Linked DNA regions of Homo sapiens. The protein of the gene in region 1 interacts with the protein of each later gene in a pairwise test. Each region holds a gene or a part of one and is shown on either strand. Other genes may lie near its edges.

Evidence for each region.
Region 2: the proteins of KIFAP3 (region 1) and KIF3B interact in binary tests that used the Homo sapiens proteins (3 or more experiments, as listed by UniProt).
Region 3: the proteins of KIFAP3 (region 1) and KIF3A interact in binary tests that used the Homo sapiens proteins (3 or more experiments, as listed by UniProt).

Annotation. Positions count from the first base shown.
Region 1 is NC_000001.11:170,033,081-170,036,831, reverse strand, and holds part of KIFAP3 (kinesin-associated protein 3), read left to right. Parts: intron 1-1,278; coding exon 1,279-1,378; intron 1,379-2,335; coding exon 2,336-2,460; intron 2,461-3,751. UniProt on the Homo sapiens protein: Involved in tethering the chromosomes to the spindle pole and in chromosome movement. Binds to the tail domain of the KIF3A/KIF3B heterodimer to form a heterotrimeric KIF3 complex and may regulate the membrane binding of this complex.
Region 2 is NC_000020.11:32,275,944-32,279,694, forward strand, and holds the start of KIF3B (kinesin-like protein KIF3B), read left to right. Parts: upstream 1-1,707; 5' UTR 1,708-1,822; intron 1,823-2,174; exon of another isoform or gene 2,175-3,751. UniProt on the Homo sapiens protein: Microtubule-based molecular motor that transport intracellular cargos, such as vesicles, organelles and protein complexes. Uses ATP hydrolysis to generate force to bind and move along the microtubule. Plays a role in cilia formation.
Region 3 is NC_000005.10:132,735,348-132,739,098, forward strand, and holds the start of KIF3A (kinesin-like protein KIF3A), read right to left. Parts: upstream 2,200-3,751; 5' UTR 2,073-2,199; coding exon 2,067-2,072; intron 1-2,066. UniProt on the Homo sapiens protein: Microtubule-based anterograde translocator for membranous organelles. Plus end-directed microtubule sliding activity in vitro. Plays a role in primary cilia formation. Plays a role in centriole cohesion and subdistal appendage organization and function.

The DNA.
Region 1 (3,751 bases):
ACTCCTGTAACTATATTTTAATTGAGATGTTTCTCTATTCTGTTTTAAGGAGAAAAATGAAATAAAATTTTGCAAATAGGCCACTAAACCTATGCCTAAATTTATGACATTATAGAACAGTTCTGTATAGGCTAGTATTTAAAGAAATACTATTTTATCTGGATTATAATGGTCAAATACCTTTGGGAATTACTAGATTGAACAAAGCTACACCAGATTATTTATTAAATAGGACTTTTTGGAGGCTTTGCTGTTAATATGCATTGTCAACCTATTTATGTGACTCCAAAATAATTTTTTTCAAAGCATGTACTATTCAAGTTCTCTGCATTGTGAATGTGAATAATACTGTGAAATGCTATCATAGGATGATTTTTAATTTGCTAAAAAATTTGTCACTACGTGGATTCATAACTAATACAATCAATTTTTGTTCATAGTCTGAATAGCCAGAAAGCTCAAATATGGGACATTTTCATTACCATAATAAATACTCATAATGCAGTCCATAAAGTACTATTGTAAATCCTGAGTATCTATTAAGAACAGTGGAATTATGATTTCTATATTTTAACATACAGATATTTTAATTATTTTAAGAATTAGTATGCCATGTACCAACCTGATTTGAAACTAGTGTCATTACTTTATAATTTTCATTTCCTCAAGAGAAAATTTTAGCAGAAATGCTTATTAACCTACCTGAAAGTTAATTTTGTGAAAGCTTTTTGTTTTATTTGTGGCTACTAGCATAAATTCAGTGTGATACTGAAATATTAAATTTATTTTTCTGTGTATAGATTTTATTTGGTTTTTAATTTGCTTTAATGGAACGAGTGTTAGTCTACTAACCTGCTCATTTTTTTCTAGACTTATTCAAGTTTTTTTCATATTATCAAATACATTAAATCAGATGTTAAAAAGAAAAAAATCAGTACTGAAGTAGGAAGATTACAGTTCTTAATTTAAGGTTATTAAATTAAGAAATGAAAGGCTTTTTAATTATTTTATTGTCACCATAACATATGTCACTTTATCTAAATCATATTTGATTACTTCTGTGTATAGTATATACTTGAAGCAGCATGTTACGTATCTTTAAGTAAAATTACATTTTAGTTTTAAAAGTAGCTGTCTGTATTGGAAAGAAGCATCCTACTTTTTGTCCCAGTTCTATCTTAGCTTTATTATTCATTAATAACTAGACATTTAAAACCAATCACCCTTTATACCAGAGCAAGGAGAATGATCGTTTCGGTACCTCTCCTTTTTCTTTAGAAACTGCCCTTGGTGCATTAGCAAGGGTCCTGAGAGAAGACTGGAAGCAAAGTGTCGAGTTAGCTACAAACATAATTTACATCTTTTTTTGTTTCTCCAGGTAAGTATAAAAATTATTAAATAAAAAGGCTACTGTATCTCTATTGCTCTTTGTCTGTGTCATTGATTCAATTTGTAGATCACTTGTTCTCTCAGTTTTTCTGTGTGTCTGCCTATGCTCTACTGCTGAATTCTTATTCCTGTTTTCCATTGTCTGTCTTGCTATCTGTTATTCTATCTTTCATTTAGTCTATACCCACTCATGCCTCAGTTTCCTTATGAGTAAAATTTGGATAGTAATAGTGGCACCCTCTTTGGATAGTTTTTTGGATTAAATGAATTAAAAATTAAAATACTTAGAATAAAGCCTGACCCAGAGTAAGTGCTCAGTAAATGTTATTGTTATATATATGCATGTATGTACAAACACATACCTGTTATGTATTGTATTTATTATTTATACACATATATCCTTAAGAAAGAAGATACTTATTAAGACATTATGAAAAGTTTCTACCCAATTCCTAGATAATTGCTGCTTCTGTTCTAAAAATGTGCTAGTATTAGCAAATAAATATTTATTGAATAAATACTTGGATTAATGTATTGTCTAGAAAACATATGTAAAACCTGATTACTAGTACTTTACGAATTCTCTGATGTCAGTTTTATACAATAAATAAAATGTATGTCTAGTATTGCTACATTATTAGTTTTGTTAGACAATAATCTAAAAATCTATTCTGAATATCTGAGTAGTTAATATGGTGGTTAGTTACAAAAAATGTCTACTTTCTAACTTCTTAAAAATAACTATTTTAGGTAAGAGTAGTGTGATATATTTAAAGTAATTTTATAATCGCAAGTCTTCCTAGTGTATTGTGGATATATTCATTTATTAAAATATGTATATCAAATTTATTTTCTACATGGTTCGTACCAGTGATCACCAAAAACAAATTTCCTGTACCCATAAAATGTATTCTTTTAAATATATATTAAAATGTCTTCTTTAAAGCTTTTCTCAATTTCATGGACTTATTACTCACTATAAAATTGGAGCTCTGTGTATGAATATTATTGATCATGAGTTAAAAAGACATGAGCTTTGGCAAGAAGAACTCTCAAAGAAGAAGAAAGCTGATATCCTTTTAGAGTGGCATTTGAACCGTCTGTTGTCTTTTGCTTTAAGTTTTGGATGGGTGGGATGGTTTTGTTCTTTTTTCTTTTTTAAAAATTGTTAATTACATTACTTGGAAACAATGCAGGAGTGTGTTATTGAAGGTTAAGAAGTAGATTGAAACTATCAAAATGAATACAGTTTGATATTCACTTTTTGTCTCTTCACAACCTTTATTAGTTAATGAGGTAGAAGGAGCAGGTAATAGTTGTGTCGGGTAACTTAGTAGGTGAGCCTCTAAGTGGTTACATCATTACATCCACTAAGATCCTTTGGTTAGTTGAAGCCTGGCCCACCACTGCTGCTTATATACTTCTGTGTGAGTACTAAGGTGACTTTGATTAGAATGGGTGTAAATTTGGTGATGAACCTAGTTAAAGGTTCTATTTTTCTAGGAAAGTGCAAAAATACTGTTGTTAATAAATAAAAATTTGAAAGGCCTATAGAATAATAGAACCTGTGAAAGGAAACTTAGGTATCTGTTTTAACCTATCTTACAAATATAAAAATATTTCTGCAACTTCCCTGGCAAATGCTATTACATAGGCTCCTCTTTAACAATGTCAGTGTTTATTTATTTCACCCATTCTGTGGTTTAGCATTCTGTTTATTATAATAGTCTTTTGCTTAGTGCACTGAAGTCCATTCCCCAATAACTTCTATCCATTGGTTCTAGTATTGTATACTAAAGCAATATGGAATAAGGCTATTCTCTTCAACATCATAATTCTTCTCATATTTGAAGATATTTATCATATTTTAGCCTCTAAACTCAATGCTTCTAGATCAAAGGCCCCTGGTTTATTCATATCTGTTCAACCATGATATGTTTTGCAGATCAACTAGGCATGCTGGTAACTTTCCTTTGAATCAAGTGTTTATTATGTCTTTTAAAAAGTGAAAACTTTATTCCTATTTTGCAGAATATCATACATTTTTAACTCTGCTTTGTGCAAAAGTGGACCTTACTTTTATATTAATTTTGGCCTCTGGAAACCCTGAGGCTTCAATTTAATCTATGTTGTAACAGGTTAATTCAGGTTATTGTGTACAAAATCTCTCAGGCTTTTACTGTTGTCACATGGAACTCCAAGACACTATAAAATCCACACCCACACACAAGCTTTGACTTTTCTTAATTAGAATCTTTTCAGGTTTATAAATTTTCTATGCATACCATAAACTTCTGGCATCTAGATTGATAGTGACTCAACTACATCAACAACCCAAGAATCCTAGAGACTTTACATCAGT
Region 2 (3,751 bases), on another chromosome or scaffold:
CCTCAGCCTCCCAAGGTGCTGGGATTATGGGCATGAGCCACCATGCCTAGCCGAATTGTTATGTTACACATCTGGAAAAATCACTGCTGATTATTTTGTCTAATTTATTAACCACATAGGAAAAAATTAACAATATCTGCAAAGAAAGCTAATGAAAGGGGGGAAAAAATGAGGCAATTATTAGCTTCAGGAAATACCAAAAGAGGCTGGGTGCAGTCTCTTTTGGTATTTCCTTTATTATTTTATTTAAAAATAAACTTCTTCACTGTAGAGAAAGTGTAAATCAAATTATGTGGGAGTTTTAATGGGCCAGGCCTGAGAATAGCACACATCACATTTAATTGGCCAGAACTTGGTCTGAACTGTAAGGAAGGCTGGGAAATACTGTCTAGTTGTGTGTCCAGGAGCAGGAAGAAATAACGTTTTTGAGAGGAAGTAGCAATATCTGCCACAACAGGCAAAAAGTAGTTGTAGGCAGATGAAGAAGACCATCTCAGGTATTCATTTATTCAAGGAGCAAAACATATTTGTTCAGCAACTACTATTGACTAAGCTTGGTTCCAGGCATGGTGGATACAAGAGTGAACAAATAAAAGACTGCTCTTATGCAGTTTCTATTTAGTGGGGAACAGCAGGTGTAAGTTCCATGGGGGTTGGAACCTGCCCTTCTAGGCCAGTGTGGTTGGAATAGAGTTTTAACGAATTTTGCAGGAAGTAATAAGGACTTCATATTTGATTCTAAGAGCAATGAGACTCCATTAAATCGAGTATTAATCAGAAAGTGGCATGATCTGTTTTATTTATTTATTTATTTATTTATTTATTTTAATCTTTATATCTGAGACGGAGTTTCGCTGTTGTCGCCCAGGCTGGAGTGCAGTGGTGCCATCTCTCTCACTGCAACCCCTGCCTCCCGGGTTCAAGCGATTCTCCTGCCTCAGCCTCCCGAGTAGCTGGGACTACAGGCATGCGCCACCACGCCCGGCTAATTTTTTGTATTTTTATTAGAGACGGGGTTTCGCCATGTTGGCCAAGCTGGTCTCGAACTCCTGACCTCAGGTGATTCACCTGCCTCAGCCTCCCAAAGTGCTGGGATTACAGCGGGAGCCACCGCACCTGGCCGCATGATCTGTTTTAAATAATTACTCTGGCCACCTTATGGAAAATGGATTGTTCGGACAGAGCTGGACAAAAGAATGGAAACAGACCAGATATTTCAGGCAGGCTAGAGATGAGCGTGGCCTGGCCTTGCCTGGGGCGGTTGTGACTGACTGGATTGGGTGAAGGACAGGAAAGCTACAACAAGGGTGCCTATAGGTGTTCGTATTGAGTCACTGGGGGCACCCTAAATGGGAGTTACCTCAGTAGCAGTTTGAGACACCAGTCAGATAATGGATGTGAAAGCTTTTAGAAAGGTTGAACGGCGGCTGAAATCGCGTGTGTTCCATTTACAGATGGGAAACTGAGGCACGAGATACCAGAGGATGGAGTCAGGCCACGTTGTGCGCCACTCTCCCCGCTTAGGTGGGTGAGGAGACCGAGGTGTGTTGGGCCCCCGCTAAACACCAGCACCGACCTGAGCCCCGCCCAGACCCCTCCAGCCGGCTTTCCCTGTCCTCTGCTCGTGTGCCAATAAAGTTATTGAAATTGACACCGGTTGCTAAGGAAGTGGGTCGCCGAGCCAGGTTGCTAAGGAAGTGAGCGGCCACTGTCTCTCCCCATCCGGGGCAGCGGGGAATGGCTGAGCCAGGGGTTCGCCGCCCCCGCCGCCGCCGCCGCCGCCGCCGCCGCCGCCGCCGCCCGCTTTCGGCTCGGGCCTCAGGTGAGTCGGAGGGGCCGGGCGCCCACCGAGCAGGGCTAATCCTGTGGCCGCCTGGGGTTTTCCCTGCGACCTGCGCCCGCGCCTCTGCCTGGCTTTGCTGTCCCGCGAGCCGGAGCATCCTCTGCCCTGCCTCCTAGGCATCCTTTGGTAGTCCGGACGGCCTTGCCCCTCCTTCCCCTGGCAGGGTCGCGGCCCGACCCCCAGACACGGCCACCTTGGGTCGCAGCCCACCTGGGGGCCCTGAGGCGGTGGTCAGGGCCCCAGTTTGGGAGGAGGGCGGGGAAGCGAGAGCCTGGGGTCCGAACCTCGGCGCTGTGCTGGGCTTGCTGTGTGACCTTGGGCAAGTCTTTTCACCTCCCTGGCCTTAGCTGACCTGTTTATTCAATGGGGTCCTAACATTGCTGCTCAGAGTGGTAAAGATAATGAGAAGTGTATGTGAAAGTGCCCTAAATGGGGAGAGGGAGAATTCTTAGGGCACCCTAGATGGGAGACCAAGAGGGCAGTTTGAAGTCTGAGCGAGTTAGAGACGTGGCATTTCCACTTAGTAACTGTGTGGCCCTGGGCAAGTTAATTTCTCTGAGTCTTCTTTTCCTTATCTGTGAAATGAGGTAATAGACTACTGTGGAAATCAGTGAGACTGGGTATGTCAAGTAGCTTGGCACATAGTAAGTGCTCAACCAGCTATTATGAGGCGTCCAGGGTAGGAGGGCAAGACTTCCAGGAGGAGATGACTTTGGGACAGGTAAGGTGTAGGTGTGTAGAGTGCCAGCTCATATGGGTAGTCCTACTGCAATGCCAACCCCCAACCCCGGTTTTACTTCTCCATTCTGCTCAGAGCAAGGGAGGTACTTCTACAAGTAGTCCTGGGAAACTCTTTGAGGTCAACCCCTTGTAGATAGCTGGGGTCATGGTCTCATTTTCTACCTGGGCTTCGTTGACCCTTCCAGAAGAAAAAAGGCATCTTTGTGTCCTTTGGGAAGTGCTTAAAGCAGTAATAACTATTTACAAGCATATGATTAAGAAGCACTTTACCAGGCATATTATTTCATTTAATCTTTATGTAGACTTTGCCAGGTGCCTGGTGATGTCATCCTCATTTTGCCGATGAGGAAACTGAGGTTCAGAAAAGTAAAGGGAAGGACCTGCTTAAGAATCCTTTTTTTTTTTTTTTTTTTTGAGACAGAGTCTTAGTCTGTTGCCCAGGCTGGAGTGCAGTGGCGCGATCTCAGCTCACTGCAACCTCCGCCTCGTGTGTTCAAGCGATTCTCCTGCCTCAGCCTCCCGAGTAGCTGGGACTACAGATGTTCACCACCTCGTCCACTAATTTTTGTAGTTTTAGTAGAGACAAGGTTTCACCATGTTGGCCTGGCTGGTCTCGAACTCCTGGCCTCAAGTGATATACCTGCCTCGGCCTCCCAAAGTGCTAGGATTACATGCGTGAGCCACCACACCCAGTCATTGCCTAAGAATCTTGTATCTATTAAGTGATGGAAGTGGACGTGTTTCTAGGTAAATCCTGTATTTTATCCCCCATTCACTGTTGCCTCTGATTTTGCAACAGTTGCTATTATAAGGCCACAGGGGTATTCTTTTGTTACTTTTAACTGGCTAGAAGTTAAAAGGCAAGGAAACAAGATCTCAGGTAAAGCTTTATTTAAATAGATACCACCCAAAGTGAGGATCTCAGAAAATAGTTGGAATCTTTTTTTTTTTTTTTGAGACGGAGTTTTGCTGTTGTTGCCCAGGCTGGAGTGCAATGGTGCCATCTCAGCTCACTGCAACCTCCGCCTCCCTGGTTCAAGCAGTTCTCCTGCCTCAGCCTCCCAAGTAGCTGGGATTACAGGCATGTGCCACCATGCCCGGCTAATTTTGTATTTTTAGTAGAGATGGGGTTTCTCCATGTTGGTCAGGCTGGTCTCAAACTCCCGA
Region 3 (3,751 bases), on another chromosome or scaffold:
TACAGGCATGTGCCACCGCACCCCGTCATTTCTGAAATTTTATGATTAAGAAAATATAATGAAACACAATCCTATTATTGAAGTGAAAAGGACAGTTTAGTTGAACAGATACTTGTTAAATTCCTACTGTTTCAGATTCTCTTCTAAGCATTGAAGAGAAACAAATATGAGTCATTGTCATTGACTCTGACATTGTCACTGACAAGTAACAGATTATATCAGTACAATACACTTCTATCTATCTCTCATCCTATTCCTCTCATCTATTCATCACCCTAGTCTAAATCACCATCATCTTGGCCCTGGATTACTGCCTCCTAACTATACTCCTGAATCTAATCAGATTGCCCTACTGCCTATTCTCCAAATAGCAGTCAGTGTCAACACACATCTAATCATGTCACTCTCCTACTTAAAAATTCTTCAGTGGTTTCCCATAGATCTCAGAACAAAAACCAGAATCCTTAAGGTGGTCTGTAAGGTCTGGCTTCCACCCACGTCTGCTTCACTGGGCTTATTTCACAAGATATTCTGCCTGGCTCATCCATGCCACAGCCACACTGAGCTGCTTGGCCTTTTCTTGTCACCATGCTCCTCACCACTGGCCTTTCCATGTGCTGTTCCTTCTACCTAGAACCATCTTCAATCCCCTCTTCACTTAGTTAACATCTACTTATCCTTCAGAACTCAACAGCCACTTCACCTGGGAAGACTTCCTGACTAGGTCAAATACTCTTATAGGCTCAGAGAGCACCCTGCTCTCCCCTTCCTGGACACAAATTTTACTTTTGCTTGTTCCTTATTTGATTAATGTCTTTCTGTCTACACCAGAGGTTGCAAACAGGTAGTCAAGAGGCTGAATTCAGCCCACAAATTTCTTTTGTTTGGTTCATAGTATTTAAAGAGCTTTTGAATTAGTTGCTAAAATTGAGAAATTTCACAAAAATAATTTCTAAAGTCTCTTCTTGGGAGGAAAAAAAATGACCTGTTATCATCTGCAGACCATCATTCTTACATGGCAATACATTCCAATTCACCAGAATCTACTTCTCTCTATTGTAGGATACCCACCCACTTCATTATTAAGGTTTTGTGTCTTACGTCTGTAAATATGTATGATTTTCACCTCTGCCCAAGAAGGCAAGCCTCTCTCTTTCCAAGTTCAAGAACCTGACTGGTGTTGCTCAATGTTGTATCTTCAGGGCCTAGCATGTGGTTGGTGCCCAATATTTACTGAATTAAAACTTGAAAGCAGTGAACAGAACAAATATAGAGCATTTAATCTTAAATGTCAAGCACTGTCCTTCTAGTCTCCTGTGTATTATTTCACGCGGATAACAACCCCATGAGGTAAAGTTTACATGGGAACTAAGGACCCAGACAGATTAAATAATTATCCGAGGCCTCACAACCACTAAATAAGCGGCCATGGCTCAATTTTCCTCCATGACCCCTAATAAGGGGTCTTAGAAGGCCCCATTATTAAGTTCACGATAACAATCTGTGAAATCCTGGAAGATAAACATAACACCGCCACACACACAAAGACACCTACGGGTTTCATTCTGCATCATAAGCTAAAGCGCCACAAGAGCAATGACAGCTCAAGGCTAGGAGACTCGGAGTATGGGGCCTGGAATAGGGGCAGGCAGCCTTCGCTCCGCTGCCTCCCTGCGCTTGCTCCGAGGCGCAAAGGCCTCACCAGGTGTGCAGCATCCAAAGAGCCCCACCGTGGCCACCCCCAGACGCCCCGCTCAGCAGGAAGGGCTGCGAGCCAGAGCGCATCCTCCAGCACAGCGCCTTTTTGATAAGCGGCGCAGGCCCCACGGGATGCAGCAGCGACGAGGGCGGCAGGGCCTGACCCCAGGTCCCTGTCGAGGCCGGCCGGACCCCCGCGGCCCCGGGGCTGACCAGCCAGGCTCTCCAACCACCTCCACCGCACGACCGAGCCTGCCCCGCCCCACCCAGGCCGCCTGCCGGCTCCGCGCCTCCATGGCAACGGCCGCGCCCCCGGGCCAGGCCGCTAGGATGAGAAGAAACCCCAGAAGCGAAGCGACTCTCCTCACCGGCATCTTGGCCCCCTCCCGTGCCCGGCGGACGTCCCCGCCCGGGGTGCAGCCCAGCGACACCGGGTGCGCAGAAAGGATGGCCAGAGACTACCGAAACACCTCGTTGACGCTCTCGAGACTGCGGCTTCTCGGGCGAGAGCGCCCAGTGCGCAGCCGCATTCCGAGCTCGCCCCGCCCCAAGCCCAGTCTCAGGCTCTCTCGGCCCTTGAATTACGCCTGCGCGGAGGCTTTCCGAGTCCATCTCCTAGGACGCCAGACTGAGGCCGCGCGTGCGCAATGCTGCCATTCTGCTGCGCTAGAAATGTGGCACGCACTGAGGCGGAGGTAACCTGGCAGCCCGGGGTTGGGAGGAGGAGCTGCTCTTAGGCCCGTCTTCTGGCCCTTGCAATACCCGGAATATTAAAATCAGTAATAGCAATTGTACATTTTGTCTCATCCGAAGAATTGAAGACCTTACCTACCTGACCTCGCTTGATTGCTAACTTCCTCATGACCTGTCTTACCATTAGAAAGTGAGCTCTCTTAAGGAGATTGTTAGTATTCTCACATCTATCTCCAGAGCCCACACAGAGCCTGGCACAGAGTGGGATTTTTATACGTGTTGGTCAAAGAACCAGTGATCCGTCCATCCTCTTTCTAGTCCACTTGAATGTGTAATGGGCATTTCAAGTTAATCATGTCCAGAATTGAAATCTTGATCCCCCATCAATCGCCCCACTACCCACTCCACCCCCATCAAAAAATTTAAAAGGGCTCTCTCTCATCCCTCTCAGACTTTCTTCATCTCAATATGTGGGAGCTTAATTCCGACAACTGCTCAGGTCAAAATTGCAGTCTCTTTCATACACAATATTCTATCTTTAAATACAGCCTGTTGTATCTATCTTTGTAGTGGAACCAGAATTTGGCCACTTCTACCACCACCATCGTCTCTCACGTGCATTACTACAATCGCTCAGAACTGGTTTCCTTGATTGTGTGTCCTTGTCCCTTTTCAGTGTGCTGGACAGGAGCCAGAGTGCTGGTGCTAAAACATGAATCAGATCTTCTCTTTTCTCTGCTCAAAACCCTCCATTGATTTCCCATCTTACAAAGCTAAAGCCACAAGCCCTACAATCCTCCCTCTTGCTTCTTCTGCACCAGCCCCACCTGGCCTCCTTGCTTCATCCAACATTCCCGTCGTGCTTCCATCTTAGCATGCAAGGGCTGTGAGCTTGCAGTAGGAACTGATAGAAATAAAGATAAAGCATTTTACATAGTGCCAGTGTACTGTTCTACATGCTTTCGTTTTTTAATTCATTTAATCCACACAATAACCTTTTGAAATAGATACTATTTATTATTATTTTACAGATAAAGTAATTGAGGCACAGGACCATTAAATAACTTTTCCAAGGTCATACATATAAACAATGGCAGAGCCCAGGTCCAAACCCAGGCAGCCTAGACAGCTCTTTCCCTAAAAAACCACCTGACCACTCACCTCCTCCAGAAAGTCTTTGTTCACATAACCCCAGTGAACCCTAACATGATTTCCTTATTTAAAATTTCAACCTTCAGCCCAAACTCTTCTTTTTTTCCCTCCCCACTTTATATTTCTCCATAGTACCTATCACCATTCAATATTTTATATATACACACATACAAGCTTTACTGAGATATAATTTACACACCATACCATA